4 linked regions of the Homo sapiens genome follow. The protein of the gene in region 2 purifies or fractionates together with the protein of the main gene of each other region. This does not show direct contact. Each region holds a gene or a part of one and is shown on either strand. Other genes may lie near its edges. The genes, in order: ZRANB2, PIP4K2A, MTMR1 and PLCD3.

Evidence for each region.
Region 1: the proteins of PIP4K2A (region 2) and ZRANB2 purify together in Homo sapiens (affinity purification with mass spectrometry; 4 studies listed by BioGRID and IntAct, with this or other methods). This does not show direct contact.
Region 3: the proteins of PIP4K2A (region 2) and MTMR1 purify together in Homo sapiens (co-immunoprecipitation; 3 studies listed by BioGRID and IntAct, with this or other methods). This does not show direct contact.
Region 4: the proteins of PIP4K2A (region 2) and PLCD3 purify together in Homo sapiens (co-immunoprecipitation; 3 studies listed by BioGRID and IntAct, with this or other methods). This does not show direct contact.

What each region holds. Positions count from the first base shown.
Region 1 is NC_000001.11:71,078,024-71,085,980, forward strand, and holds the start of ZRANB2 (zinc finger Ran-binding domain-containing protein 2), read right to left. Parts: upstream 3,013-7,957; 5' UTR 2,973-3,012; coding exon 2,917-2,972; intron 686-2,916; coding exon 633-685; intron 543-632; coding exon 434-542; intron 1-433. UniProt on the Homo sapiens protein: Splice factor required for alternative splicing of TRA2B/SFRS10 transcripts. Binds to ssRNA containing the consensus sequence 5'-AGGUAA-3'. May interfere with constitutive 5'-splice site selection.
Region 2 is NC_000010.11:22,536,560-22,543,580, forward strand, and holds part of PIP4K2A (phosphatidylinositol 5-phosphate 4-kinase type-2 alpha), read right to left. Parts: intron 5,489-7,021; coding exon 5,245-5,488; intron 3,516-5,244; coding exon 3,412-3,515; intron 723-3,411; coding exon 642-722; 3' UTR 1-641. UniProt on the Homo sapiens protein: Catalyzes the phosphorylation of phosphatidylinositol 5-phosphate (PtdIns5P) on the fourth hydroxyl of the myo-inositol ring, to form phosphatidylinositol 4,5-bisphosphate (PtdIns(4,5)P2). Has both ATP- and GTP-dependent kinase activities.
Region 3 is NC_000023.11:150,689,421-150,696,408, reverse strand, and holds the start of MTMR1 (phosphatidylinositol-3-phosphate phosphatase MTMR1), read right to left. Parts: upstream 3,014-6,988; 5' UTR 2,879-3,013; coding exon 2,733-2,878; intron 1-2,732. UniProt on the Homo sapiens protein: Lipid phosphatase that specifically dephosphorylates the D-3 position of phosphatidylinositol 3-phosphate, generating phosphatidylinositol. Could also dephosphorylate phosphatidylinositol 3,5-bisphosphate to produce phosphatidylinositol 5-phosphate.
Region 4 is NC_000017.11:45,108,506-45,115,526, reverse strand, and holds the end of PLCD3 (1-phosphatidylinositol 4,5-bisphosphate phosphodiesterase delta-3), read left to right. Parts: exon of another isoform or gene 1-18; intron 19-36; coding exon 37-183; intron 184-282; coding exon 283-433; intron 434-1,025; coding exon of another isoform or gene 1,026-1,160; coding exon 1,161-1,277; intron 1,278-1,921; coding exon 1,922-2,088; intron 2,089-2,269; coding exon 2,270-2,405; intron 2,406-2,514; coding exon 2,515-2,664; intron 2,665-2,822; coding exon 2,823-2,911; 3' UTR 2,912-6,568; downstream 6,569-7,021. UniProt on the Homo sapiens protein: Hydrolyzes the phosphatidylinositol 4,5-bisphosphate (PIP2) to generate 2 second messenger molecules diacylglycerol (DAG) and inositol 1,4,5-trisphosphate (IP3).

The sequences.
Region 1 (7,957 bases), on a different chromosome or scaffold from region 2:
CTATAATTAGACTTAATTACTTACGGCACACAACTTATGAATCTAACATTATTTTGTAAACAGGCAAAATGAGTTTTGTGGTGTATTTCACACTAACTATACAGTCTAAAAATTGGGATTTTTCAATAAAGGAAGTAATAGGCCTTAGTACTTTTAAGTACCACCACCCCCCGATTGGTTTTGAGCTTACCATAAGCATTTGTTTACTGGTATACATAATCCATCATAGTGACAACTATTACCATTAAAAAATGCAAAGAATAATTTAAAACTTCTTTATACTATACTTAAAGATGAGACTGAATAACAATACCTTGGATTTAAAAGGTTACCCTGGCTTGTCAATGTCACTAATAAGAGCTGTAATATAAACAAGTAGTGGCCAGATCTATTATTTTGGAAGAAAGAGCAGACAATAATTTAAAAAACATACGTTTTACATTGCCAGTCATTAGCACTAAATAGGCCTCGGCTCTTTTCTGCAAGTGTCTTTCCTATTTCAGTGCCCCCAGCTTTCATCATCTTGGCCTCAGTTGTTTTCTCTGAAAACAGAAAAATCATGCAATATGAACCTGGAGAAATAAATAAATGATACATATACAGTATAAATAGAATCTTCTTTAAATACTTACCCCGACCACATCGATTACAGCTGGTTCTTCTAGCAAAGTTTACATTTCCACATCTAAAAACAGATTAAAAAGCATTTATAAAAATTTAAATTTGTAAAATTTTACATTTTAACTTGTCCTCACTACATATCTGGAATTCATAACTTCTAATCCATCTTAGTCATGTTAATGTCAATGTTACCAACAAAAAACTCCACACAATTTACTGGGGGAAAAATACTTGATTGGAGCCACAAATTCAGAATAAGATATCCCAATCCTCCATTTACCAGTCATGTGATCTTGATTAAGTTACTTAGGATCTCTGCCTCAAGTCCTCACATTAGCACATATCATTAGTTATAATCCCTTTACAAAGTTGAAAGTGAGAGTTAACTCCACTTCACTAATTACTTACAAGCTACCAGGGAGTTTTAAACCCTAGCGGTGGACCAATGAGGAAAAAAACTTATAAATCAAGGAGGGCTTCATGGATCTTAATGAAATTATCTTTTTACATGCAGTAGGTAGGATGCTAAGGAACCAAATATGATAGGTTGTACTGACTAAAAATACAAAAAGATTCAATAATTGTAAGAAAACTGAGTTTTACAGGGCATTTCTCAAACCTCTGAGACTTCGCTGAAAAAAATGACACAACCACCAAAACCAATAATCTCAACACATGTAGTACAGTAAGACTTTATGCTTATACTCAACAAACTCAAACCTAAAGAATTACTGGTTCACTCACATGACCTTAGAAGTGTACGTGTATATTGGTAAAAGTATGTTAAATGCTCTGGATAACATGGAATGCTTAAACTTTAAAAAGCTGATTTTTAAGGCATTATACTAGAATACAATACAGATGTGAAGTATGGGATGACACTAAAGTGAAACACTCTAAATAATATTTAGGTTAAGTTTTTCCCCTAAAAATATTCCTTTTAACTCCATTAAGCATGGAAAATATACTCTGAAAATTTATCCTGCATTTAAACATATTGTACAAACAACATTCTATTCATATATTTGTAAATGAGTTGAAATGAACTCTCATTGAGAGTCCTACCTCTGGGTGTGCTGTCATTAAAGACACTGACAAAAGCACATTATTTTACAGGTAACAACAAAGTCAGAAGTTGTTGTTCTAAATCTTTTGAACGTTTTCAATAATGTCTTACCACTCAGAGCAATACTATCCATAACATATAACTTTGGTTCTATTCAGTATCATTTGTTAGGCTTGAACTACTCCTTCAGGTCATCTTAATATCAAATTACTATCAATAGCCACCAATTAGAATTTGCTACACGTCACTGTTTACACACCCTATCCATGTTATTTCATGTTTTCATTAAAAAAAAAATTCTATTCCTTTTTTAGCAGTTAAATAAGTAATAGAATTTTAACTAAACCCAGGTTTATTTCAAAGTTTTTGCTTTTTACAATCAAAACCTATTTGTGGCTAACTTAGGTACAACAAATAAAAGGCTTTTATGTGAACATGAGTTGTACATTAAATTATTTTCCATGTTATTTCCGAATAGATACACCTATTTGTGCACCCTTCAAAAAAAATCTGATTAACTATCTAGTCGAGTACTGGCTTTGGCAACAATGTCAAAAAGCAGAGCCACTAACACACGTGCTTCTCTGCTGCAGGCATCTTAAGGGCTGAGTAGGCAAAAACACAGGCCTCTTCCCTCCTTTTCGGCTCTAAGGAGGCGAAAAGCCCAATTCTTGTGGAGAAATGATCCACAAAGAAAATGTCAGAATTTCCCAAACCGAAGAGGGTAGAGCTTCCGGAAAAGGGGAAAATAGTATGGAGGAAAAGTTTGAGTAAAAATACAAAACAAGGTGAACTATAAGAGGCAAAAGGACGAGTGCGAGAAAGCAATATTTTCCGTGAACAAGAGTAAAGTTCTGCAGAGAAAAGTCACGTGGGGGAGATCCAACACCAAGCTGGCCTGACTGGAGAGGTTTCCTATCGCTAAAACCTGGCCGGGGCGGGGGAGGGGGGTGGGGGCAAAAAGGTAGGCCATCTCGCACTCTAAAAAGAGAGGCTACCTTGCGGAGGTAATGTCGAGGAAACGCTGAAGACATATCTAGAACAAAGGCTCCCGGAAAGACCTCTCTCGTGAGGAGATTGGGAGCCTTCTTCCCGCCAGGGAACTGGCGGTTCGCCGCCTCAACCCGTCTTAAGGCACAGAAAATCATAAAAAAGGAAAATGCCGGACGGACCTCGGAAAGCTTCCACTAACAAACTCCGTCCCAATTCAGGACCCTTCTTGAACTCACTTTTTGTCAGGGCAAATCCAGTCCCCGTCACTGACTCGGAAATTCTTGGTCGACATCTTGAACGCCACCAGCACAGCCACCCGCAGCTATGTCTTCACAGGAGGAAAACGGGCCGGGGACTTTCGGCAACTCGGGGCTGTCCCCACACTGCCTGACTCGCGCCTACTACTGTGTCAGGGTTTGATAATGAGGGAACTAGCCAGGAATTCAGCTTGTACGTTGTTGTCCAGACTAAGATGCCTGTGCTACTGTTTGTTAGATGGAAAAGTTAAAATACAAATATCTTTTCTAGAACTAAACTCACAGGCGCCATAAGGACAACCCAGGCAGGAGGCCTTCGTGGCACTAGAAGCCTCGGAGAGCCCCCTACAGGTGGGAGGACCCAAGAGTAAAGTACTTCCGCTTCCTTAGGTGGAGCTGGAAAGGTGGAGGCGGAAGTGACTGATCAATTCAGGGGCGTGGGGTTCGTTTAGGGTAAGAGGCGGCTCGGGCTCTTCAAGTGTTTAGAGAAATTATTTTAATAAGGCATAAAAATTCTGTTATTTCATACACATGGGATGTCGTTTGGAAACCTATTTTTATATATACATAAATAGGTGTAACAGATAAGTAAGCAACTTATACATGGGAACCAGCTGGTAATTTTAAAACTGAGACATTGTCAACACTGTTTAAATTACCAGTGTCTTTTCTGATACCATCCCATTACTTTCTTCCACAGATAACACTTTCCCATATTTGGGATTTATTCTTTTGCTTTTTAAAAATTTATGTACGTTGTTAGTCCAAACTGCACCATTTTTGTAAGCCCCCCTGCCATTTTGCAGACCTTAGTCAAAGTGAAACATTCCACGGGGTTCGGGCGTGAGAAACAGGCTGCCTCTTATACTCTGCTGGGAGAAAGTACCACATTCCACTGGAACAAGGGCCAGAGCCGCCTCGTCCTGGGAACACCTTATCAACATGTTCCCAGGAAGCAGGCCATGGCCCCCCAGACCACTCCCACCCAGGCCTATAAATCACCCCAGCCTGTAAGAAGCAACGGGCACTGGCATTAAGCTGGTCTCCCACCTCTGTAGGTCTTATGCTGGACATAAATCCTGTATTTGTTGTTAAGCCACCCTCTCTTTCTTTAATCCTTGCCTTCCCTTCAAAACCTAACATACATGTATGTTTAATTTTATGAGCTGTGTAAGCATAGTTGATTCTGTACTCTTTTTTTGTTCATTATGCTTCTAAATTAATCCTAGGTAGTTGCATGTAGAAGTGTATAGGTGTAATTCTTTTATTTGCACTGATGTATACTGATACTATTCCGTTTTGTGGTTTTGTGACAGTTTATTCCTTCTGTTTCTCAGGCTTGGTATTACAAACAACACCAGTATGAGCATTCTTATGCATAGATTCTGGTATATAAATGCATTAATTTTTTTTAGAATACAGCATATACAGTCATGCCTCACTTAATGATAGGGATATGTTCTGAGAAATGCCACTTTCGGCAATTGTGCTGTTGTGTGAACATCATAGAATGTGCTTACACAGGCCTAGCAGGTATAGCCTACTACACACCTAGGCTATATGGTATAGCCTATTGCTCCTAGACTACAAACCTGCATTTAGTACATCTTATTGTACTAAATACTGTAGGCAGTTGTAACGCAGTGGTATTTGTGTATCTAAATATAAAGGTACAGTAAAAATATGGTATTGTAATCTTATGGGACCACCTTTGTATATGTGGTTCATCATTGACTGAAATGTCTTTATGCAAGTATGATTATGTTTAGGAGAGAAATTGTTCAACTACTCTCTAGTTATGATTGTTGCTTTAAAATCTGTATTATAACATTTTGGTCATCTAGGAGTTAGCAGGTGTTGATTATATTTTCCCTTGCAAGTTGGTCACATTTTTCCAGTTCTTTTATACTGTGTAATTGTGGATTTTATCTAGGACATTTTGAACATTATGTTGCATAGACTGAGTCCTGTTAAAAGCCTTTAGGGAATGTTGATTTTTTTTTGTTTTAGAAGGCAATCGATCCAATTTGGTTCAGGTCAAAAGTTCGGTCTCATCTTCTATGAGTACTGGTTCCATGTCAGCTGGGTTTTCAAAGGCTTTGCTGTGTCCTATACCTACAATACTCAGGGATTATTTGGGGATGTTAGCAGTAGTTTAAATTGAAATTCAGTTTTGCTATGCTATTTTGTGTTTGTTCTGCACGTGTTCAGTTTAGGTGTGAACACAGAACTTGTATAGGTTCATACATAGAATTAGGGGATCCTCTTCTCTAGCTCTCTCCTCTTACATTCTTCTCCTTTTGTCTCGCAAGGTCCTCTCACCAGAAATATGAGGTTCCTCTTGGAGTTTTAGCAGCCTGGCATAGCAGCTGACTAGGGCAGATTCTGAGACAAAGCAGTGACAGAAAAGAGAGAGAAAAAATGTGGATTCCCTCTACACTCTTCAGACCACAAAGGCCTCCTTTTCTACTTCCTTTGTCCATAAAAACAGAGCTTCTGTTAGTATTGTAGATACCCAAGCCTAGGGCCTCACTCTTGGGCCAATGCCCAGAGAGAGAGAGAGAGAGAGAGAGAGAGAGAGAAATTAAAAAAAAGAAAGAAAAACCAGAAGAGGGGGAGCTAAGTATTCCCCCGACTAACTTTTGGCTCACAAAAGCCCCCTATCCCCATTCTGGCAAGACATACAGGTTTCTGTCGGTTTTTCCTGTCACCACAGTTTCACTAGGTGTTGGGCCTTAGGTCAAAAGCTGTGAGAAAAGAGGAAAAGCAAACATACAGAACATTTCTCCAGGTTTTCATTCTCCACTCCAATTTACCTGTTTTTGTTTTTGTTTTTCCAGAGTCTTCAGGCAGTTGCTTTTGGTATTTTGTCTTGAGTTTCTCACTGTAATCATTAGGAAAGATAGGTTATTGTGGGCTTTCTATGTCTTGGTTGGTACTGCAAGTCAGGGGAATGCAAATTAAAACCATATGATACCATTATGCATTCATCAAACTGACTAAAATGAAAAATCAGAGAATACTAAGTGTTGGAAAGCATGTAGAGCAACTGTAATTCTCATACATTGCAAAAAGTAATTGATACATCTACTTTGGAAAATGTCGGAATATATTAAATCTGAACATTTTCGTACACTATGACCCTGAAATTCCATTTTTAGGTATATTACCAACAGGAATGCACATAATGTTCACTGAAGATGTATATAGTAATGTTCAGAGCTGTACTATTCAAAATAGCCCAAACTGGAAGCTTCCCAATTGCTTATCAGTGGTAGCCTAGATAAATAAATTGTCATATGTTTACACAGTTGGAATGTGTAATACAGTAGCAAGAATAACAAATTACACTCAGATTATTGAACAGTATTTCACTCACAAATACAGTCTTGAATTGAAAAAAGCAAGACACAAAATGGCATATGCTATATGACTCCATTTACATGAAGTTCAAAAGCAGCCAAACTAATCTTGGATAGTGATCACCCTTGGGAGTAGAGAGGAGATAGTGACTTCATGGGGTCAATAGGAATAATAGATGCCAAAGCTGGTAGATGACATGCAGTTAATGCAACAACAGTTAATCAACTGTACTAACTGTAATTAGCAAAATTTTTCTGGGAGAATTATGTGTCAAGAGAAAAATCCTCTATAGTAAGTCTAGGATAATGAACAAAATGCGTGAATACATCTGATAATGACCAGAAGAGGTTATTTGAGTTCAAGGACTTTAGCTGATTTTTCAAAGAGAAATATTCCTACAAAAGAAATTCATTTCAGCTATCCTAATTTGAAAGAAAAATTCTACCCATTCTCTTTATTCTTATTATATGCTCACCAAACAGCCCTCTGATAATTTGTCTTCTCTCCTGAGCACACTTAACCTACTGTGGTGAAATTCCCAGAGTGAATTTATCCACACAAGTTGTTCATCTGGATTAAGCTCTCTTTATAGATTGAGAAATTGGCACTCTGAAATGCATATCAGTTGTTTATGGGTCCTCTTAATATGTTGGTCCCCAGGAGATTAGCTCTGGTGGAAATGGTAAAGTTGAGTTTCTGAACCTACAAAGCTAAGAATCTGGCTCTAAATATTGCATTAGGGCTCACTCTGCTTGCAAGTAACAAAAATAAAAATAAAATGACTTAAACAACAAAAAGGGGGAGCATATTATAAAGAGAAGGTGGTGTTTGATGGAATGCCAGAGCAGGAATGCAGTTTCAGAAATATCCTAAAAGAAACTATCCTCTATTCAAGCAGCACCCTTTCTCTGTCTCTTTGCTGAATTTGTTCTGCATATGCGTTATTCTTTCCTCAGACTAGCTTTTCTGTTACCTAGTTCAGAAGACTGAAAAAAAAAAAAAAAGCAATACTGCCCTTAGACCTGGGCAACCAGGGCTCCTAGCCTGGTCCTGCACCTGGCCTTCCTTGAGGTGCCCTAATTCCCCTCGAGTGTCTTGGACCATTCAGCAGGATGGAGCCAAAATGTAGTACTATGTGGGTCCTGGACAGTGGAAGTCCTGAGATGTTCTATTGCTTTTGGTGGTGGGGACCAGCCAGGTCAGCAGGACCTGTTGGGTGGGACAGTCCTAAGCCTAAAGAAAATGTTATTGGCTTCTTTGTTTCTTCCCTTCAGGCCCTCCTGACCATATTGCCCTCTTAACATGCTCAGGGTCCACCAGTGCAGCAGGATCTCTGGTACTAGCACCTGTAGGGTGGCTTAGGGCCAGATGGCCCTGCCAGTTCCTGGAGAGCAACTTGGAGGGCCAAAGCTCCCACTGGCTGGGGCATTATTTCTTTCATGGCATTATTTCTTTCATCGCACAAGTTTGGGCCACCAGAATGATGCTTTTTCAGTGGTTTGAGGGTGATTTTCACTAATATCAGACACAGGATGAGTTCAGTGCTCTGGGCTACCACTGTCCCCCCATGCATCCTTGGTCTGGAGCTGACTGTGTGAGCCAGTATGTGGGCTCTTCCCTGACTGGTCAGACCAAGGAACCACCTCTAGTGGAGAGC
Region 2 (7,021 bases):
GGGGCTCAGGTTATCAGTGTTAGGGAGAGTGTCTGCGTGCGGGGTAGAAATGGAACATTCGCTGTAGGTTTTTTCCTTGGAATCATCATCATTATTATAATAATCATCATTATTATCTTCATTATTCTGAATACTGTCTCACATCTTTCAACTCCAAAAAAAAAAAAAAAAAAAAAAAACTGATCCACAGTTTGTTGTGTGATGCCAACACGGTGCCTGACATCATGCACTTCCTTCTCCCCTCCCCCACACGTGTGTTCATTCACTCACTCACTCACTCACTCATTCATTCGGCCATAGCTGGAATCAAAGGGTCTTTGTTGGGACACATACTGACCGAAGTGGATCTGTTTTAATTAATTTATGACTTTTAAAATGCACACGCGCGCACACACTCACCCCCCCCCAACACACACACACACACATATACACAAAGTCAGAAATAGCTAGAACGATGCTGGGAAAATCAGGTAGCTGTAAAGCGAGTAGCCCCCAAATCAGTCATCTTGGCCTGAAGATGTAAACAAGGAGGTTTGCTTCCTGCAAGATGAGTACTTCACTGAGTTTGGTTTTCATTTTTCCTACACCGAAGCCACCTCTGTCCATCCAATGTTCATGTCTGTCCGAGGCTGCGCAGGAGGTTACGTCAAGATGTGGCCAATAAAGTCCAAAAAGCGCTTTGAATACTGTTCTGGGTTCACGGTGGAGATCTCCGCGCCAGCCTGGGCAGTTTTTAAAAAAGGAAATATTGACATAGTGTTTATGATTTCCCCAAATTATTACTCAATATCTACAGCTATTTCCAATGGCAACTGAATATACAGCAAGCAATTTTCAAATCCATGCAGTCTCTGCTCTGAAAAACATCACTCAAAATATCTTGGCGCTCATGGTTGAATAAGCAAGGTTCTTACAAATCTGTGTCTGCAAATGAGACAAAGGGCGACAGGAGCACCAGATGCTACCACACACACCGGGGCTGTTGCAACTCACAAAAAAATCAAACAGGCCACGTTTGGGATGTTACTATCAAAGAGTGGAATTGTTCAGAAGTCACGGAAACAATACTTATGTTATACTTTTCAAGAAGGCAGACTGGAGCCACCTTGAGAATGACATCAACATTTGGCGAAAGGGAAACCTTAATGACGATGACTTAAAACCGCATGATTTCTTCAGGACCCCTTCGTTTCTGGACAGAGGCCCCCAGCTCAGTGCTCAAACATGAGGGGCAACAGCAGCAGCCACAGGTTCTGGGACAGCTGCCCCCAGCCCATTCCCTGCACCGTAACCAGGTGAGGCACAACACTGCTGGCTCCATCTTGCCCACGGGGGAAGGAGCTGACTTCCCTCTGCAGCAGCACACAGGGGTGCCACTGTTCCCCTTTCTGAGCCCTGCAGAGAGCAAGCAAGCCTGGCCCCCTGCAGAAGCACGGTGAGGGATTTTTCCATGATGAGATGCAGGGTGCAGGCCAGCACACTCAAGGGAGTCACTCACTGGCCAGTTTCCTGAGCTGCAAAGGGCAAGCACGGAGTTTTGCTAAGTGAGCATGTGCTGTTTTTAGACACCCATGTTCACCGGGGAACTTGTAATATTTCCAGGCCTCGGCTGCATGGAGGAGCCCAGGCTTGAATGCAGAGAGAATGGTCCCCCACAGCAGCTTAACACAGCGTTCCTTTGCTGACAGTAATGTTTTCTTCTTGCAAACTACCTGTGATTTTATGCCGTGTGGCACACTATGGAGGCGAACTTGTGGCTTATGGGGAGATGAACATGGAGCCATATTGGCTAGGATAGGAGAGATGAACATGGAGCCATATTGGCTAGGATACACTCCAATTTCACAGGATGTATAATATGGGAACAGACATTTACAAAGCATTTGTCCAGACAACTCTTGTATCTCTGGCAAAACCCCATCAGCAAGGCAGTAGGATTTCTGTATGAGGTGAAAAAACAGGAGCTCCAAAAGTGTCCCCTTGAGGTCATACAAGTGGGAAGGGTCAAACGAGGATTCCTCGCCAGTTCTCTCTTTGCCACACTCCATGGTTTTCAACCAGAGGTGAGCATCAGAATGACCATGGAGTCTTCTGAAGACCCCTCCCTCACCCTCCTGAACTGGCCTCAGAAATGACGGAATGGGGGTGGTGCACCTGGTGCGGATGTTTGTTTAAAAAGAGTACTCAAAAATTTCTGTTGGGGGGAAGCCACCAGGCACACTTGCTTACTGACGTGCTCGGGGGCGGTGAGGTCCCAGTCTGTGCTCTGCACACAGCAGGAATACCATAGCTATCGACAATGTGACTGAAATATTTCTTTGGCAAATAGAATACTGTGTTTGTTAGGCTGATTTCTATTTTAAAATAGAAAAGAAGAGGTTTCAAGTGAGTTTTTGGTTCTGGTGAATCTTCATTAGTTCTACACAGTCTGTGGGAAGCACCTCTTCTTCCAGGGCCAACAAACCAGGGAATACATTCATCTGTGTGGGGTGGGCTCTATGGCTTTCAGGACCTCTGCAAAACAAAGATGGCACCCTGCAATACAAGCCTGAAACTTGGCGAGCTGTAAAGTTCAGCCAGGCAGGAGGTGTTTGCAGGCAGGGCAAGGGGATGAGCATGAACACAGAGCCAGGAGGGGGCTGGGTCCGGGGGAGGAATCTCATCTCTGCCACTTGCTACTATGAGGCCCTGGCAAGTTACTCCTGAAGCTATTTTCCTCAGTTTCTCCAACTGACAAAAGCAGGTACACTACTATCTCTTTCATAGGCTTCTCATGGGGGATAAAATAGCTTAACATATGGCTAGAGCAGTGAAAACTCCCATCAAGCAACATTAACGGTGAGTAATATTATGCAACTTTGATTTTGCACTCAAGAGATTTCTGTAGTAGAAAAAATACAACTCACTGTGAGAAAAGAAATATTAATCCTGTATACTTGGGAAGTGTCTTAAGCAGACAATCATGCTTCAGTTTTGAATATTTCATATTAGAACACTTCATTATCTTCTTTTGCACTTTTATCTCTGGAACATTTTTCAAACAAAAAAGAATTTGTGTAACATCCTAGTGATGCGCATGCCTGTTAGTGTCCGCCATGTGTAAAAAGAAGAGATGTTCATGTTTAAGTGACTTCGCTGGAAGCCACAGGGAGCTGTGGTAAGAGCAGCAGTGAGCAGTAAGCGTTTGTGGGTTCTGTATCTTACGCTCAGAACATGACTTGCCCCCAGGGAACAAGCGTCACTAAAGGGCTTTGAATGGCTCAGTAGAAAGCAGCTCAGTGGCAGAAAGGAGTGATCCCTGAGTTACAGGTCACACAGAGGAGCCAGGAGAGAGAGAGAGAGAGAGAGAGAGGGAGAGAGAGAGAGAGAGAGGGAGAGAAAGAGAGAAGGAAACAAAATGGAGATACTCACGCCATGTTTAACAGTTTTTGCAGCATGGGCAGCTTTCTTTTTTGCATCATAATGAGTAAGGATGTCAATAATTGCCATGAAGTACACCTCCTTCCTAGGCGAGTCTGCAGAGACAGGAGAGCAATGACTGTGGGACATGTGACAACACCAGTGCCAGCATTGCTGCTGAGGGAGGGAGGGAGGGAGAAGTGAGCCTGGAGGGAGGGGATTCAATGGAACGCGGATGGAAGGAGTCCAGAGACAAACTCTACACCACCCCTGCGGATCCTGACTAAACACACAGCTTGCCTCTCTGACCCAGTCCCCCTGCAATTTAAAAAGAAACAACCCTAACAACTAAAAACATCATCACACCAGGGTATCAACAGTGGAGATCCAACGGTGGAACGGAGTCTTTTTTTTTTTTTAATTTGCATTTTCTTTAATAATTGTGTATTGCTTTGGTGTGAAGAAATATGCTATTTAAAAATACCCTATAAAACAGAACTAATTATGTACACTAATCCTTTACATCAAATGGTAGAACTGTTCATAATTCTCACTGGATACAGTATCAGAACTGGATAAAGGCATACATCCACTCCAATGTCTATTTTCTTTTTTTGAGACAGAGTTTTGTTCTTGTTGCCCAGGCTGGAGTGCAATGGTGCGATCTTGGCTCACAGCAACCTCCACCTCCCGAGTTCAAGTGACTCCTGCCTCAGCCTGCCGAGTAGCCGGGATTACAGGCATGCATCACTATGCCCAGCTAATTTCATATTTTTAGTAGAGATGGGGTTTCTCCATGTAGGTCAGGCTGGTCTCAAACTCATGACCTCAGGTGATCTGCCTGCCGCGGCCTCCCAAAGTGCTGGGATTACAGGCATGAACCACTGCGCCCGGCCCGTGTCTGTTTTCTATCCATTTCCAAAAATATGAACAGTAAGAAAAGTACATTTGACTATCTAATTTTCTGTGTTGAAGAAAACATTTTGGTGAGCAAAACAGAACAAAACAGAACTCAGATCCTCAGCTGATATGCCATTTGAGATTAAAAAACAACTGATGAGCCACAGTTTTTATTATTCAAAAACCAAGAAGCTGTTTTTATCCTATCACAAAAATATTTTGGTATTGTCACGGATAAGTTGCTAAGGTAGGATGTAATATTCAAATAACTGGTGCACCCAATCACCTGGATACGGTGGATTAAGATTTATCTGACTCTAGGGAAGAGGGCCATAGGCCCTTCCATGGGGGAGGACAGCAGAGCCAGACTCAGCAGCAAATCAGATTCCCACCCCACCCACAGGGCCCATCTTCACACACCCTTCACACCCCTGAGAGGGAGAGGGCTGTTGGTAATGACAAGAGGACAAGCTAAGGGTCACAGAGGATCACATGCATGTGCCTAGCTTAGACTCATGATGCTTTTGACTTAGATAAAAAAGATAACTAGGCAAAAACGTATTAATATTTTAAAGCATTTCTGATGTTATTTGTGAACATGTATGTGTGCATATGTACATGCATGTTGTGTTGTGTGTGCACGTACGTTGTATGCCAGTGTGTATGTGCATATGTACAGGTGTGTTGTACATGTATAGTATAGTTCGTGGTTTTGCTGTATTCCCTCAACATCACAGAATTCAAAGGTCCGATCGCCTTATGTTTCAGCACTGAGATCACGGTTAGCTTTAACATACTCTTGTCCCCAAATCCATTTCTTTGGAGTTTGGAGGATGAGTGCTGCCGGGCAGCACCCTCATAACTGGGGTAGTGCTTACTGGTAGATAACAAGGCCAAAGTCAAACCACTTCACATGCAAAAAGGGTCCACAGTAATCAAACTTACTTTCATGGCACTTAATTCCATAGACGTCGATGTTCGGATCGAACTCCCCGGGAGCCAGGGGTGGTGAGCTGTTCAGTGTATTCCCGGGGCTATCTGGGGGGGTTCCCACCGGGTGGGTGCCATCGCTCTCGCCCTCCTCCTCCCCATCGTTCTCCTCACACTCCACTTCCTCCTGTTCGGCTCTCTCCACATCATGAATTCCCACCAGCAGACTGTAGTCCATGAGCTTCAGCTGGGCCAGAAACTGGGGACAGAGGCAACAGGGTGAGTCAGCCACACCTTAAACATAAAAGCCAACATTTAAAGGAGACAAGCTCGGGTGACACCCAGAGGGAAGGCTGTGGGGTGGGGCAGCAGAGGCGCCGGGTGCCTCCTTCACGATGCTCTTACACTCCTGGGCTGTTTCTCTATCTAAAATGTAGCCTCACACTTCAGGCTGGCTCAGAGCTCAGGCTGTTTACCCTGGAATGCCACACTGGATGCGGAGAGGTGTGTATCTATCACAGGGTGGCTGGATTTCACCAGATAGCAAGGAGCATGACCAGTAAGAGATGCGGAGAGAGACTGGGAGAGAGAGCAAGTTCCTCCCAATGATTAAGACTGGCTAATGGGGAAACCCAGGCATCTCCCAAGTAGCTTCCAGCGGAGTCTCTGGTGGTAGTTCAGGAAAGCACCCTGGAATTCAGCATGCTCTGTGGAGGCGATTGTTACGCTGTTGTAAATAAGTAAAAGTAAAGGCACTGTGTCCACATCTGGTGAGTAATGCAGTCCTGTCCAGGTCAACAAGGTGCTTTCCACGTGTGCTTTCCACGAAGCACCACACATCCAGGATTCCTGTCCTCCCTCTCCTCCTCCAGCCGTGGCTAGAACATAATGTGGGGGCAAGACCCAGCTCTGTGTGTTTGGCTACTCCTGTCTGCCCAGTTCTTTGACTTTTCAGATCACGATTTCTCTTTGTTTCCCTTTTCTTATTTGAGACCTTCAGCACAACGTTCCAATGTTGCCATAAGATGTGGATGGTTGTGCTGAGTGCAAACAGTGGCAGCCCATCTGCGGGCTGGACCCAACTGGCTCCCTGACCCCGTGGCTGGCTGGCTCTGCACAGGATCCTGTTCCACTCCGACCTTGGGCTCAGGGTCCAGGAAGGTTCACGGTCCTGGCTCTGGAAGGACTCAGTGCCACCTCGCTGGGGAATGCAGAGTGGCTGAGCAGCCTCTGGGCTATGCTGATAGAATTTAGGAAGCAGATGTCCTCATGCAAAGGGCAAACAGATAAAATCACAGGTCTTGAAGTTCTGGCTAAAAATGAAATCAATTTGCTAAGCCCCGCAGAGTCATTTCTCCTCAGCCTGCTGGGAAGGAGTTCTGTCTCGAAACTGAATGAGAAGCCCCGATTCCTTACAGACGAGGAGAGGACCCCTGGGCACAGGGCTATCCCACTCTCCAGCTGGTTCCTGGTGCCTGCAATTCTCCATCAGCCAGCACCCCGCTCAGCCCAGCAAACTGGCCAGAGCTCCCACTTCGCTGCCTTCCCAACAGGAATCCCCCAGGGCCAGCTATATCTTCCCCAATTGTTTTGAGCTCAAAAAAGAGAAATCACACAAATCTTACACTCAAATATTTAAGCAAAGTGGGAGAAACCTGTTTGTTTAAAAATAGAGGCAAACCCCTCGTGGAAACAGCATGGGGCTCCTGCGTTCAGCTTTCTGGGTCCCAGAGAAGAGGGGAAGCCACTGCTCATCCCCCCTGGTCTTTCCCCAAACTCCCCCATTACAGTA
Region 3 (6,988 bases), on a different chromosome or scaffold from region 2:
TTACAGTATTCAGAAGAGAAGTGAAGGCCCCATAGTCCCAGGGACATGGCCAAGTCCCACCCATAGAGCCAGGTTCCATTCTAGAGGTCACTCTTCAAAGAAAAGTGTGAATCTGAGCTTGTTGAGCTGACAGAACTGAGAAAGGAGGCCATGATTCCTCCCCCATCCCTTCTCTGTAGTCTGTGCAATTGCCCTCTATACTCCTGGTGTCAATAACTACTTACAGGCTGGAGGCTCCCAGCTCTGTTTCTCCAACCTGGACTCTCCTGATCTCAATGCTGATGTTCCTACAAGACCTGTCCACTAGTCTGGCCCAGAGACCCTGCCAATTCAACCTGTCTAAACCAGCATCAGCCGCTCAGCCCCGCAACCTACTCTGCTCCTGTGTTTCCTAACTCAGGGCGCAGCACAGCCAGTTATCCGGCCCCCACACGCTAGAAAGCTGAGGTTTGCCTTGGAGTCCACCCGGCACTCCCCCCTCACATCTGAATGCTCACCATGTCGGGTCACTCTTACCTGGTAAGCATCTTGAAAATCCACCCAGCCCTATTCCTAGCCCAATTCCCTTTTCCAGACCTCCATCATTCTTCTGTGAACTCCACCTGCCTCATGAATTTAAGCCTCATCTATAAGCCCATGACTCCCCAGTTTGAATCTCCAGCCCAGACAACCCTGAACTCCAGGCTCAGATAGATCAACTATATCTTTGACATCTATTCTGGGACATATAATTGGCATCTCAAAATTGATATGTCCAGAGCGAAGAGCCTGCTATTTTCTAACCCTGCTCCACCTTAGAAAGACTTCTCCATCTCAGCAACACAATTTTCCCACAAGCTAAAATTTTGGAATTCTCCCAGATTCTTCTCTCATACCAACCAACCAATCTTCAGCAAACCCCATTGGCTCTACCCTGCAGGTCTTCAAATTACATGTAGTATCTGACCACTTCTCCCCTCCTCCGCTCCACTCTGGACCACCATCTCACTTGGCTTACTACAATAGCCTCCTACTGACAGTCTCTGCTTCAGCTCCTTCCCCTTTCACTCTATTGTCCACATAGCACCATGGAGAGCCTACTGAAATCTACAACAGATGATGTCACTCCTCTGCACAAAGTCCCCAGTGGCTCCCCATGGCCTCTGAGGCTCTCCACCATCTGGCTCTGTGACTTCTCTAACGTCATCCCTTACTTGTCTCTCCCTAGCTCCCTCCCTGCTAGTGACACCTAGTCTCCTCGCTGATCTAGGAACACTTGGCTCACATTCACCTCAGGGGCTTTGCACAGGCCTCTGACTAGAATACTATCACCCCCAGGTATCTGTATGGCTGGATCCCTCGCCTCTTTGGGGGCATTACTCAAATGTCAGCTTTCTCAGGCTTTCCCTGATCATCAAAATCTCTGAAGGAAACCAGAAGATGAGGCATATTTGGGGGTGACACATTCTGGTCTCCTTTGGCTTCTTAAATGATTCTGATGCATGCCCATCCTGAGTACTTCTGTGTTCGCCTCTACCACCTATCTCATTTATCACATTCGATTTCCACTGTTGGTTGGTTTGTATTCTCCACTAGATGGTAAGTCTAGCAAAATGGTAAGGCAGCAAAAGCCGTGTTGTGCTATTCTCTGAATCGCCCAGACCTCGTGTGTGGTTGAATATTTGCAGATGAGTGAAGTCCTCACCATTTCAAGTGCTGTCTTAGCTGTGACTGGTTTTCAGTGACACTAACCACTTGGGTGATTAATTTATTAAAATATATTGTAATTACACTGAGGTAGAAACAAAAGTGAAGGGAATGTTTCTTGTTTCTGTGCTTTTGGAAACTCCCAAAAGTTTGGCACAATGGGATGACCAAGACAGGCAGGAATGGGCATGTAAAACTGACTGAGCTACATTCCAACAGTGCATGCTGCCTGAGTGCACTCTGGTGTCAGGGAAATGGCCAAGTTGTGGGAAAACTGGATGTTCCGGGTTACACGATAGGCCATCTCTTGTCGTCGGAGGAGGCGGTGGCCCCTCCCAGTTCGACACGGTCACTTTATGTTTCTAACTGATTTCTCTTAGTTCTGCAGCTGCCTCAGAAGCAGTAGGCTTGCTTGTGTGTTCATGAAAACAATAAACTGGTTCCCTCAAAGTGTGAAGAACTGAAAGTAAATGGTTCTGTTTTCTTGCCTCCTGAGCAGTTTGGACGTTTTCCATCTCAGATTTTTGCCTCGATCTGCACCAGCTCCCACGCCCGCGGGGTCCCATCTCCCCGTCCTCACTCCCAACCCCCCATCAAAGACCCTAAGCAGCCACAGCAGAATTGGGGTCTTAAAACCACACGAGGCAAGGTGATGCTAGAAGAGGAGAGCCCGGGTGGGATCTCCCTCCCAAGAGGATTGGTGGCCTGGGCAGGGACAGCCAAGCGATCGCCAAGGGCAGCAGGTGGCGGCGCCGGAAGTGGTTTGACAGCTGCGAAGCCCCTCCCGGGGTTCCAGGAGCTGGGGCTCTCGGGGCGGAAGTGAGCCAGGTGCGCGGCCCGCAGCAGGTCCGAGGGCAGCAGTCCCCGGATGGGGCGCTGAGGTTTCCGGGGGTGGGGGGGAGGAGGGCCCAGAGGGGATGAAGAGGGGCCGCCCACCCCGCCACCGCCAGGCCCTGCGCAGCGCGCGGGGAGGGGGCGGGCTGGCCTCGCGCGGGGCCCTCGGGAGTCGGGGCGCGGGAGGCCGGGGCAGCCCGGGCCCCGCTTACCTGTCCAGGGTCTCCACGCTGGGCTGCCGGGAGCCGGCGGTGGCGCCCCCCGCGGCCCGAGGAGGCCTCCTGCCGCCCGCCGGCCCCGGGTTCGGGCCCCCGCCGCCCTCGCAGCCCGCCGCCGCCGCCGCCGCCGGCCTGTCCATGGCGCGCCGAGTCCTGCCGCCTTGGGGAAGCCGCCGTCGGGACGGGAGCGGCGGCCGGGAAGGTTTCGCTGCTTGCCTCCTGCCGCCCGCTCTATACCGCCCGCCCGCCTCAGGCGGCCGCCGCCATTAGCTGTCACCTGGCGGCCCCGCGTTACCCACAAGGCCGCGCGCGCGGGGGTCGGGGGGCGGGAGCGGGGGCGGGGAGGGCGGCGCGCGGGGCCGGCGCCGGGAACCCCCACCTCGCCCAGCCCCACCTGGGCGCTCGCCCACGGAGCCTTACAGCGGGGATCTGGGACCTCCTGCTCCAGCGACCTGGGTGCGTACAGAGCCACTGGGGTTCGGAATCCCCAAACGGATTATGCGTAGCGTGCTTCACTCTATAGTCACACCGGGTTGACTGCAGAGACGTGGGGTGTAAAAAGAAGTTTGAAGACATTCAAGTATCAAAAATGATTTCCCACCTCAGTTGTCCTTCCCGGAAAAGGTATAGAACAGCTCAAGCTCCCTCGGTCTTGACATCTTGAAGCAGGAGCAATTCCGTGCATTTTAGCAATTCCTCCCCACCCCATTCTTCCCTCCACTCTCCCCCTCCATACGCACCCCGCCGCCCCGCCACAAACCCACCCCCTTGCCATCTGTAGGGCAACCAAGTGTTCTGATGCCGCCCTCGGAGCTTCCGCCCATGGTTTATGTTAAGAGTAACATTTAACTTCTGTTGATTAAAAAATCACTGCTATGAACATCAAGCCAATATCTTGGTGAGGCATTTAGGACATTTGCTTTCTGGGCTAGATTTATTTCCTTGCTCATTTTGTTTGGGTTCGAATATCCAACAGCTCATCCCCTCTCACCTCACCCCTGATTAAGTTGGGAGTGGGTGTGTGGCTCGTGATTAAGCCTCTTTGCCTGTGATTGCTCTGGGTGTAGACAGGAGGCCTGCGACCCAGGTCTGGAAAAGAAGATATAAAGGGAACAATTTGCTCACTGTTAAAAGGCAGATCTGCAGACAGGGAGTTACTCATGCCCATCCCAGACCCATCCTGCCCCACCAGCTTAATAACTTCAAACTGAACTTTGAGGATATGATGCCTGAAGCCCCGACAGCCATCTTACGCACAAGAGGAGGTGAGCCTGGGGTAAGAAGATGACAGAGTGAGGAGGGCTAGGAGGAAGGAAAGGAAGATCCCCAGACAATAATAGCTCCTATCTCACACTGGAGAATCACCGACTGCAGGTTGCTGGCTTTCTAAAATTATTAAATCAAATGGTTAACCCACTGTTATGGACTGAATGTTTTCATCCCCCTGAAGTCCATATGTTGAAGCCCTAATTCCCTGTGTGATGGTATTTGGAGATGGGGTCTTTGAGAGGCAATTAGGTCATGAGGGCCAAGCTCTAGTCTGATGGAACTGGTGCTTTTTAAGAAGGGTCACCAGAGAGCTTGATCTCATGCACTCACATGCACACACTGAGAAAAGGCCGTGTGAGTACACAGCAAGAAGGTGGCCATCTGCAAGCCAGGAACAGAGCCCTTACTAGGTCCCTGCTGGACACTTAATCTTGGACTTTCCAGCCTCCAGAGTTGTGAGAAAATTTCTGTTGTTTAAGCCACCCAGTCTATGGTATTTTGTTTTGGCAGCCTAAGCACACTAAGACACCCACTTTTAGTTGGGTATTTTGTTACAAGTAGCTGCAAGCATCTTAGCTGTGCTGAGAATTGTCAGAAAGAAAACAGTGCAACTTTAAGCATATTTTAAGTACCATATTCTTTAAGAAACATTAGGCCAAAGAGGAATTCACTGTGACACTGTCATACTTCCAATTCAGTTAAGTACACTTAGGATTTAGAGGACAGAGATGAATCTGACATATCCCTGCCTAAGATGTTCACAATCCAGTGAAGGGGACAGACAAATTAACAATGACATTACAAGTTGGCAAGTGCTATAATGGGGACAATTGCACAGGATGTGGAACACCTACCCCAATCCATAGGAGAAGAGGAGGTCAGGAAAACTTCCCCAAAAAGGTGACATAAAACTGAATCTTTAAAGATGAGTAAATCCTTGATGAGGCAAAGGAGTCAAGTTATTCCAGGCAGAAGGCACAGTTATGGGCAAAGGTGTGGATTAGTAGGTATATTAATCTGTTTTGCTTTGCTGTAAAGGAATACCAGAGACCTGGTAATTTATAAAGAAAAGAAGTTTATTTTGGCTCACAGTTCTGCAGACCGTACAAGAAGCATTGTGCTGGCATCTGCTTCTGGTAAGGGCCTCAGCAAGCTTACAATCATGGTGGAAGGCGAAGAGGAAACAGGCATGTCAAATGGTGAGAGAAGGAGCAAGTGAAAGGTGAGGGAGGCACCAGACTCTTTCAAACGACCAGCTCTTGCATGAACTCATAGAACGAGGATTCACTCATTACCACGGGGAGGGCACAAAGCCTTTCCTGAGGGGTCCACCTTCAGGATGTTCACAATCCAGTTTGCAACCCAGACACCCCTTACTCAGCCCCAACTCCAACATTAGGGCTCACATTTCAACATGAGATTTGGACGGCACAAACATCCAAACTCTATCTGTAGGTTAAATAGCTTATTATGTGCAAGAGAATGCCAAGAAATCGAGTGTTACTGGAGCATAAAGTCAGACAAGATAAGTGAGGATCTGGACTGGTGGTAGGCCAAGAAGTTTGGGCTTTGTTCTGCAGCTCACCAGATCTCAAATGTTAGTGTGCAAGAATCAGCCCCAGTCTGCATTTTCAGCAAATGCTCCCATGATTCTGATGCGGGGCTTGCTGCACTTGGAGAAATACTATTGTATAGTCCCCCATCTACGTCCATTTGATAGATTGTGCTTCCAAAGACTGCTGCAATAATATCCCCCATCCCACACACTCTTTTGCAAGGTGATCTTACCACTCATACATCAAGAGGTGGATTCTGTTTACCTTCTCCTTGAATGTGGACTGGCCCTGTAACCCCTTTGACCAATAGAATGTAGCAGAGGTGATGCTGTATAATTTCCAAGGCTAACCCTTAAGGGATTTGCAACTTCCAGTTTGCTTTCTGTGCATACTCCTTCTTGGAAGTCAGCTGCCATACTCTGAGGAAGCCCAAGCAGCCACAGGGAGAGGCCCATATGGAAGAGAACCAAAGCTCTCAGCCAATAGCCCTAGCTGAGTTCCCCAGGCAGCATGGCCAGAAGCCAGCACTAACTGCCAGCTATGTGAGTGAGGCCATTTCAAGCCTTTCAGTCATTCTGGTGGCCTAGCCAACACCACATGAAGCTGATGAATCATACAATTGACTCACAGATTTTTGAAAACTAATGAATTATGGTTTTAAGCCACTAGGTTTTGGGGTGATTTTTTGTGCAGCAATAGAGCACCCAAGCATTGCTCTTGATGAATGATCCAGAGAAGTAATCCCCTACCTGCTCAGCTCCCTTCCCCATTCAGCTATAGGAATCCATGCACAAATCACAGCCACACTCCAAGGAGGGTACTCCACAGTAGTAGGTCAGAAGCTGTTATAATCTAAGATTTTACCCTACTAGCAAGCTGAAAATTTAGTTGATCACCACACTCTAACACTCTGAGAGAAAATATAAAGCCTCTGGATCCGAAACAAAGACAGTTTATTATTCACAGCAAAATCAGCAGCCACAGCAATATCTTGGATCTGCATCCTGAACCCCAGTCTCTACAGGGTGGCATGCTGTTCTGCAGTGCAACCTTGCCACTCTTACATTAAGAGGTGGTATCGGCTGGGCGTGGTGGCTCACGCCTGTAATCCTAGCACTTTGGGAGGCCGAGGTGGGCAGATCACCTGAGGTCAGGAGTTCAAGACCAGCCTGGCCAACGTGGCGAAAGCCCATCTCTACTAAAAATACAAAAATTAGCCGGGCGTGGTGGCACATGCCTATAATCCCAGCTACTTGGGAGGCTGAGGTAGGAGAATCGCTTGAACCCAGGAGGCAGAGGTTGCAGTGAGCTGAGATCCTGCCACTGCACTCCAGCCTGGGCGACAGTGCGAGACTCCGTCTCAAACAAAACGAAACAAAACAAAACAAAAACAGGTGGTACCTATTTCCCCTCCTTTTGAATGGG
Region 4 (7,021 bases), on a different chromosome or scaffold from region 2:
GGCCTAACCCTTCATCCTCCACGTTGGCCCCCACAGCAGCTGAAGGGCCGGGTCCTGGTGAAGGGAAAGAAGTTGCCCGCTGCTCGGAGCGAGGATGGCCGGGCTCTGTCGGATCGGGAGGAGGAGGAGGAGGATGACGAGGAGGAAGAAGAGGAGGTGGAGGCTGCAGCGCAGAGGCGGCTGGTGAGAGCTGGGATGGGTGGGGTGGGGAAGGGGGGGAAGGTGGGAGGACGGATGTGGGAAGCGGGGGCCAGCTGAACCCCGCTGAGCCTGGTCTCCTAGGCCAAGCAGATCTCCCCGGAGCTGTCGGCCCTGGCTGTGTACTGCCACGCCACCCGCCTGCGGACCCTGCACCCTGCCCCCAACGCCCCACAACCCTGCCAGGTCAGCTCCCTCAGCGAGCGCAAAGCCAAGAAACTCATTCGGGAGGCAGGTAGGAGCTGGGGCACTGGGTGTCTGGGGGCGAGAGGGTGAGAGACCTCCTGAAGGGAGTCTGGAAAGGAGTTGAGGGGGCTTTGGGGGACAGTAAAGAGGTCAAGAGGACCCCAAAGAGGGGCTGGGCTGAGGGAATGAGGGCCCCGCACATGCCAGGGTGGATGGAGGGGAGTGGCACGCTGAGGGCGGCCTGCTGTCTGCCTTCAGAGCCCTGTGGTGGGGCCGGCCATAGAGGGTGATGGGTCAGGCTGGGCTGGGGGCTGGGGGAGCCCAGCAGCTGCTGCAACACTGGGGAGGAATTCCTGGGGCAGGTGATGCTGAGAGGACACATCACCTGGAGGACTAGGAAGCAGCCAGGTGAAGAGGGGAGAGCGCTTTCCAGACAGGAGGAACAGGTTGTTGAAGGCCTGGGGCCTTGGCCTGGAGAAGAATTCCAGGAACCACAGTGGAGCTGGAGGGCCGTGGGCATTCAGTGTACTTGGTTGGAACTTTGTCAGGAGCTGGGAATTGGGGGCTGGGGATGCAGGGCCAGGCTGTGTGGCTGGAGGGGGTCCCTGCAGCCTCCTCAGTGAGCTCCCCTCTCACTCTAGGTCAGAAGAGAGTGAGGAGCGGGGGCAGGGTGACCTGGGGACGGGCTTGGGCTCTGTTCCCTGGAGGTTACAGGCCGGGGCTTTGGGTGAGGGACCCCCGGAGTCTGTCACGGTCTCACCCCAACTCTGCCCCAGGGAACAGCTTTGTCAGGCACAATGCCCGCCAGCTGACCCGCGTGTACCCGCTGGGGCTGCGGATGAACTCAGCCAACTACAGTCCCCAGGAGATGTGGAACTCGGGCTGTCAGCTGGGTAAGTGGGGGCCACAGGAATGAGAGCAGGCGGGGTGCCACAGTGTGGGGGAGGCCTCAGCAGTGAGGGGCCCACACAGCCTTCCAGACGGTGGAAACACGCATTTTGTTGATTATTTTTAAAGTTGCCAGCAATGTAGGTGGGAAAATCAAATCAGGCTCGTTTGTTCTTGACAGTGTACAGGTCTCGCATTTTTATCATGGTAGAAATTAAAATCTCCACTCCCATGTCCCCCGGACACACACAACCCCCACACACCTGGCAGTCCCACTAAGTCAACACTGACAAGGGTGGGCTCTGGGGGACGCTGAGCCCCACCAAAGGAGGGCTGTATCGTCTCCTTGGGGTAAGGATGGAAACCCCAGGCTTCCTCAGACCCCTGGCTCTGACCCAAGCCTGGCCCTGAGGGTGGGGGCTTTTTTAGTACCTCCCACCCCAGTCTTGAGGGATCCCAGGGCAGAAGTACAGGTGACAGTGGGGGCTGGGTCCATGACCCCCTCCCCTAAAGTCATGGTGGGAGCAGAGCAGCACTAAGCAGACAGTGGGACCCCAGGCCCTTTGTAGAGAGGAATGCAGTCCCCTGAAACTGAGTAGTGAGAACAGGGCCGCTAAGAGCCCCTGCTCTGACCCTGCTGTGTCCACAGTGGCCTTGAACTTCCAGACGCCAGGCTACGAGATGGACCTCAATGCCGGGCGCTTCCTAGTCAATGGGCAGTGTGGCTACGTCCTAAAACCTGCCTGCCTGCGGCAACCTGACTCGACCTTTGACCCCGAGTACCCAGGACCTCCCAGAACCACTCTCAGCATCCAGGTCAGCAGGCTGGAACGGGCCCCAGTGTGGGGTCAGACTGGTTCTAGAAAGGCTCTTTGTGAGGTGGAGGAAGGCAAGGGAGGCTGGGGACATTTGGAAGTGAGGGTGGTGTGAGCTTGAGGCCCATGAGGGGATGGCCAAGGTGGGCGTGGGCCCCAGCCACTCCCTCCCTCACCCACAGGTGCTGACTGCACAGCAGCTGCCCAAGCTGAATGCCGAGAAGCCACACTCCATTGTGGACCCCCTGGTGCGCATTGAGATCCATGGGGTGCCCGCAGACTGTGCCCGGCAGGAGACTGACTACGTGCTCAACAATGGTGGGCAGCCACTGGCGGAAGTGGGGTTGGGGGAGACTGCAGAGAGCGAAGGGTGGTGCAGGGTGGGTCCTGGGGCCCCTGGGCTCTGACTGCCATCCCTGTGCCCTAGGCTTCAACCCCCGCTGGGGGCAGACCCTGCAGTTCCAGCTGCGGGCTCCGGAGCTGGCACTGGTCCGGTTTGTGGTGGAAGATTATGACGCCACCTCCCCCAATGACTTTGTGGGCCAGTTTACACTGCCTCTTAGCAGCCTAAAGCAAGGTTGGTGGAGGCTGGTGGGGATGGAGAGGGATGTGGGTCCAGGTCCTGCAGACCCTGTTCACCTTTGTGCCTCGAATTTCCTGCCCTGAAGCAGGCCCGGGCTGGGCCAGACCCCCAGGGTGCACAGAGGACCTGAGGCCTGGCTGTCCTCCCTACAGGGTACCGCCACATACACCTGCTTTCCAAGGACGGGGCCTCACTGTCACCAGCCACGCTCTTCATCCAAATCCGCATCCAGCGCTCCTGAGGGCCCACCTCACTCGCCTTGGGGTTCTGCGAGTGCCAGTCCACATCCCCTGCAGAGCCCTCTCCTCCTCTGGAGTCAGGTGGTGGGAGTACCAGCCCCCCAGCCCACCCACTTGGCCCACTCAGCCCATTCACCAGGCGCTGGTCTCACCTGGGTGCTGAGGGCTGCCTGGGCCCCTCCTGAAGAACAGAAAGGTGTTCATGTGACTTCAGTGAGCTCCAACCCTGGGGCCCTGAGATGGCCCCAGCTCCTCTTGTCCTCAGCCCACCCCTCATTGTGACTTATGAGGAGCAAGCCTGTTGCTGCCAGGAGACTTGGGGAGCAGGACACTTGTGGGCCCTCAGTTCCCCTCTGTCCTCCCGTGGGCCATCCCAGCCTCCTTCCCCCAGAGGAGCGCAGTCACTCCACTTGGCCCCGACCCCGAGCTTAGCCCCTAAGCCCTCCTTTACCCCAGGCCTTCCTGGACTCCTCCCTCCAGCTCCGGAACCTGAGCTCCCCTTCCCTTCTCAAAGCAAGAAGGGAGCGCTGAGGCATGAAGCCCTGGGGAAACTGGCAGTAGGTTTTGGTTTTTATTTTTTGAGACAGGGTCTCGCTCCGTCGCCCAGGCTGGAGTGCAATGTTGCAATCATGGCTCACTGCAGCTTTGAACTCCCAGGCTCAAGCGATCCTCCCATCTCAGCCTCCTGAGTAGCTGGGACTACAGGCACAGGCCACCAAACCTGGCTAATGTTTAAATTTTATGTAGAGATGGCGGGGGGGGCGGGGGTCTCCCTATGTTGCCCAGGCTGGTCTCGAGCTCCTGACCTCAAGTGATCCTCCTGCCCCAGCATTCCAAAGTGCTGGGATTACAGGTGTGAGCCACTGCCTGGCCTGGCCGTAGGTTTGTAACTGTTTCATAGAAGAGCCCTGGAGAAGACAGTAGAATGAGCCTATCTAGTTTAAAAAATAAAGAAGCACGTTGATTTCACCACCGCCACTCCCTGAGCACCTCTATGCTGCCACCCCCACAGGCCCATGAGGAGGGACAGGGCTGGATGAGTTTCTTGGGCCTCTCCCCTCAACAGGGCATGGACTTGGCTAAGACAGCCAGGGGGTGGCAGCAGGAGATGCCACAGCTCTAAATAGCCCGATCCCTGCTCCTGGCTTAAAGCTGCTGCGAGTATCACAAGACTGTCTGAGGATGCCAATTCAGCAGGTCAGCGCCTCCCCACAACACACACACACACACACACACACACACACTCACACATACACAGAGGGGCCTTGAATGAGGAGGAGACAGGAGTCTGAGGGACCCTCAGACTGCCACTCTCCAGGCTTGGCTGGGCTCAAGGCCCCTGTCTGCTCAGTAGGGCAAATCCCAAGGACACGGGCTTCCCTTCCTCCAGCCAGCCAGCCTTTTACACAAAGGCTGGAAACGCTGCTTGGGCCGCCTCTATAGAAATGCCAGGAGAGCGCACTGGACACTAGGCGACAGAATCTGGAGAAAATCCTGCACCCGCCCCTGCCAGCAGGGTGAAATGTGGAGGCCTGGTGTTTTAGGTTCTGCCAGCCAACAGTGCCGGCACTGGACAAGGGCAGAACTTGACATTAGTCCCCAGAGGGTGGCCTGGAACTGGGCTGGGATAGGCCTTGAACTGGCCCCAAGCCCCACAGAAACCAAAACACAGGGCTGGGGCAGACTCCACCTTCTAGCAACTCCAAGAACTAATGCAGAAAGTGGCAGTGTCCCCCGCTCCTTCATGCTGGGAGTGGCGTTTGGCTCTGGTTAATTTGTGTGTCTGAAAGAGGATAATCAGAATCAAAAGGGCCCAGAAGGAATGGGCCGAGCCAGGCGGGCCGGGCCAGGCAGCCCGGGCATCTGGCACTCAGGGCTGTCAGAGGGTCAGGCTGCCAAACTGCAGCCTCAGGATGGGAGGCACAGTGAGGCTAAGTCCAGTTTTAGCAAATGAAGAGCCATTAGCATTGCCCAGCCCCTGCAGAGCCAGGTCTGGCCAGGGGCTGGCTGGGGGGTCTGGGTCAGGTGAGCACCAGACCCAGGGCTGAGTGCCCATCCTGCTTGGCTTCTCTGGTTTCGTATCTGGTACCAAGAGGAAGGGGTGAAGGCTAGGATGAGGGCCCAATACTGAGAAGGCTGCCTTGAAAGGGCAAGAGTCTTTTTTTTTTTTCTTTTGAGACAAAGTCTTGCTCGTCCCCCAGGATGGAGTGCGATGGCGTGATCTCGGCTCACTGCAACCTCTGCCTCCCGGGTTCAAGCGATTCTCTTGCCTCAGCCTCCGGAGTAGCTGGGATTACAGGCGCCCGCCACCATACCCAGCTAATTTTTGTATTTTTAGTAGAGACGGGGTTTCACCATGTTGGCCAGGCTGGTCTCGAACTCCTGACCTCAGGTGATCCACCCGCCTTGACCTCCCAAAGTGCTGGGATTACAGGCGTGAGCCACTGCACCCAGCCAAAAGGGCAAGAGTCTTTAAGGAAGTGAACTGGGAAGCAGAAGCAAGGGAGAAATCACAGGGTTTTTTTTTTGTTTGTTTTTTTGAGATGGAGTCTCGCTCTGTCGCCTAGGCTAGAGTGCAGTGGCACGACCTTGGCTCACTGCAAGCTCCGCCTCCCGGGTTCACACCATTCTCCTGCCTCAGCTTCCCAAGTAGCTGGGACTACAGGCGCCCACCACCATGCCCGGCTAATTTTTTTGTGTTTTTAGTAGAGACAGGGTTTCATAGTGTTAGCCAGGATGGTCTCGATCTCCTGACCTCGTGATCCACCCGCCTCGCCCTCCCAAAGTGCTGGGATTACAGGCGTGAGCCACCATGCCCAGCCTGAAATCACAGCTTTTTATCCCAGAGGCCCATGGGTAGAAACAACACATAGGGCTATGTTCTCTCAGCCCAAAGCTAAGGGCAGGAAAAAAGGCATGGGCCATAGGAGCCTGAGTGACTTGGTTTGGGACAGGAGGGTTGGGGGGCTTTAGAGGGGTCAGGCAGGTCCTGTGTCCTCTCAGTTTCCCTGGAAAGGGGCTTGGAGGCACCAGTCATGGACCTGAAAGGATCAGGGGGTCAGGGAATGGGTAAGTTCCAGAGGATGAGAAGAGGGGGAATGGGAAGTCTTAAACACAGCTACTGGGGCCCAGCAACTTGCCATGTTAAAATGCACCCCTAGTGACTCAAAGAACCACCCGGCCAGTGGTGCAGGAGGAGAGATGTGGCACCTGGGCACAGTGGGAAGGCACGGGGCCTGCACCTCCACCAGAGGAGCCACTGCTGACCTGGACCAAGGGGGCTGCTCTGTGCCCAGCTAGGGAAGCCTGGGCCGGCTCCTGTGCTGAGGTGCTCAGGTGCTGGCTGAGAGCCCAGTTGCTGCTCTAACTTGGAGTGAACCTGGGTCAATAGCAGCTCGTCTCTGGCGGGTGGGAAGGGTCTGACAACACCAAGTTTGCCCTGGAAGAAGGGCAGCCTTAAAGGAAGGCCTTTGGAAGCTGGCCTGGTGCTGTGGGCTTGAGGGACTTTGTGTCCAAGCCCTGTCGTCCTGGCTCCAGCCTAGGCTCCAGCACTCCATTTCTTCCACTGCCACCTGCTGACCAGGAATACCAGGACAGAAGGTTTTGTTCAGCTGCTTTCTTTATTAGAAACAAGTGAGATGTATTGAGCAGAACAACAATGCATTTGGTATTTCCTCCCCGACCCTGGAAATGGATGCCCCCCCACAGCCCAAAGAAAAGCCAAGACAAAAAGGTGAAGCTCCCCCGTCCCTGTTCCCAGACATGGCACCTGCCTGCCAGCCAGTCAGTATTTTTTAATTTAATGGAATGAAATTGTCCTCAACAGCCTCCGTAGGTGTAGTCGGCTTGCAGGCCCGCCTTCATTTTGCAGCAGAGTAAAACTGAAGCCTCAGGCCTCCCCTGGTTCTGGGGAAGGTGGGCCAGGCCATCAGAAGGCTGCCTCACAGGTGGGTAGGCACTGACGGGAGGGACACTCCTGCTCCCTCCCCTGATCTAACATCTGGTTCCCCTCCTTCTCCTAGAGTGCAGCTCCATGCAGTTGTCCAAGGCCTTTGGGCCCTTAGGTTGGTTAAATGCTGGTCGTCTTTGGGGAAAGAATTCAGGACCACAGG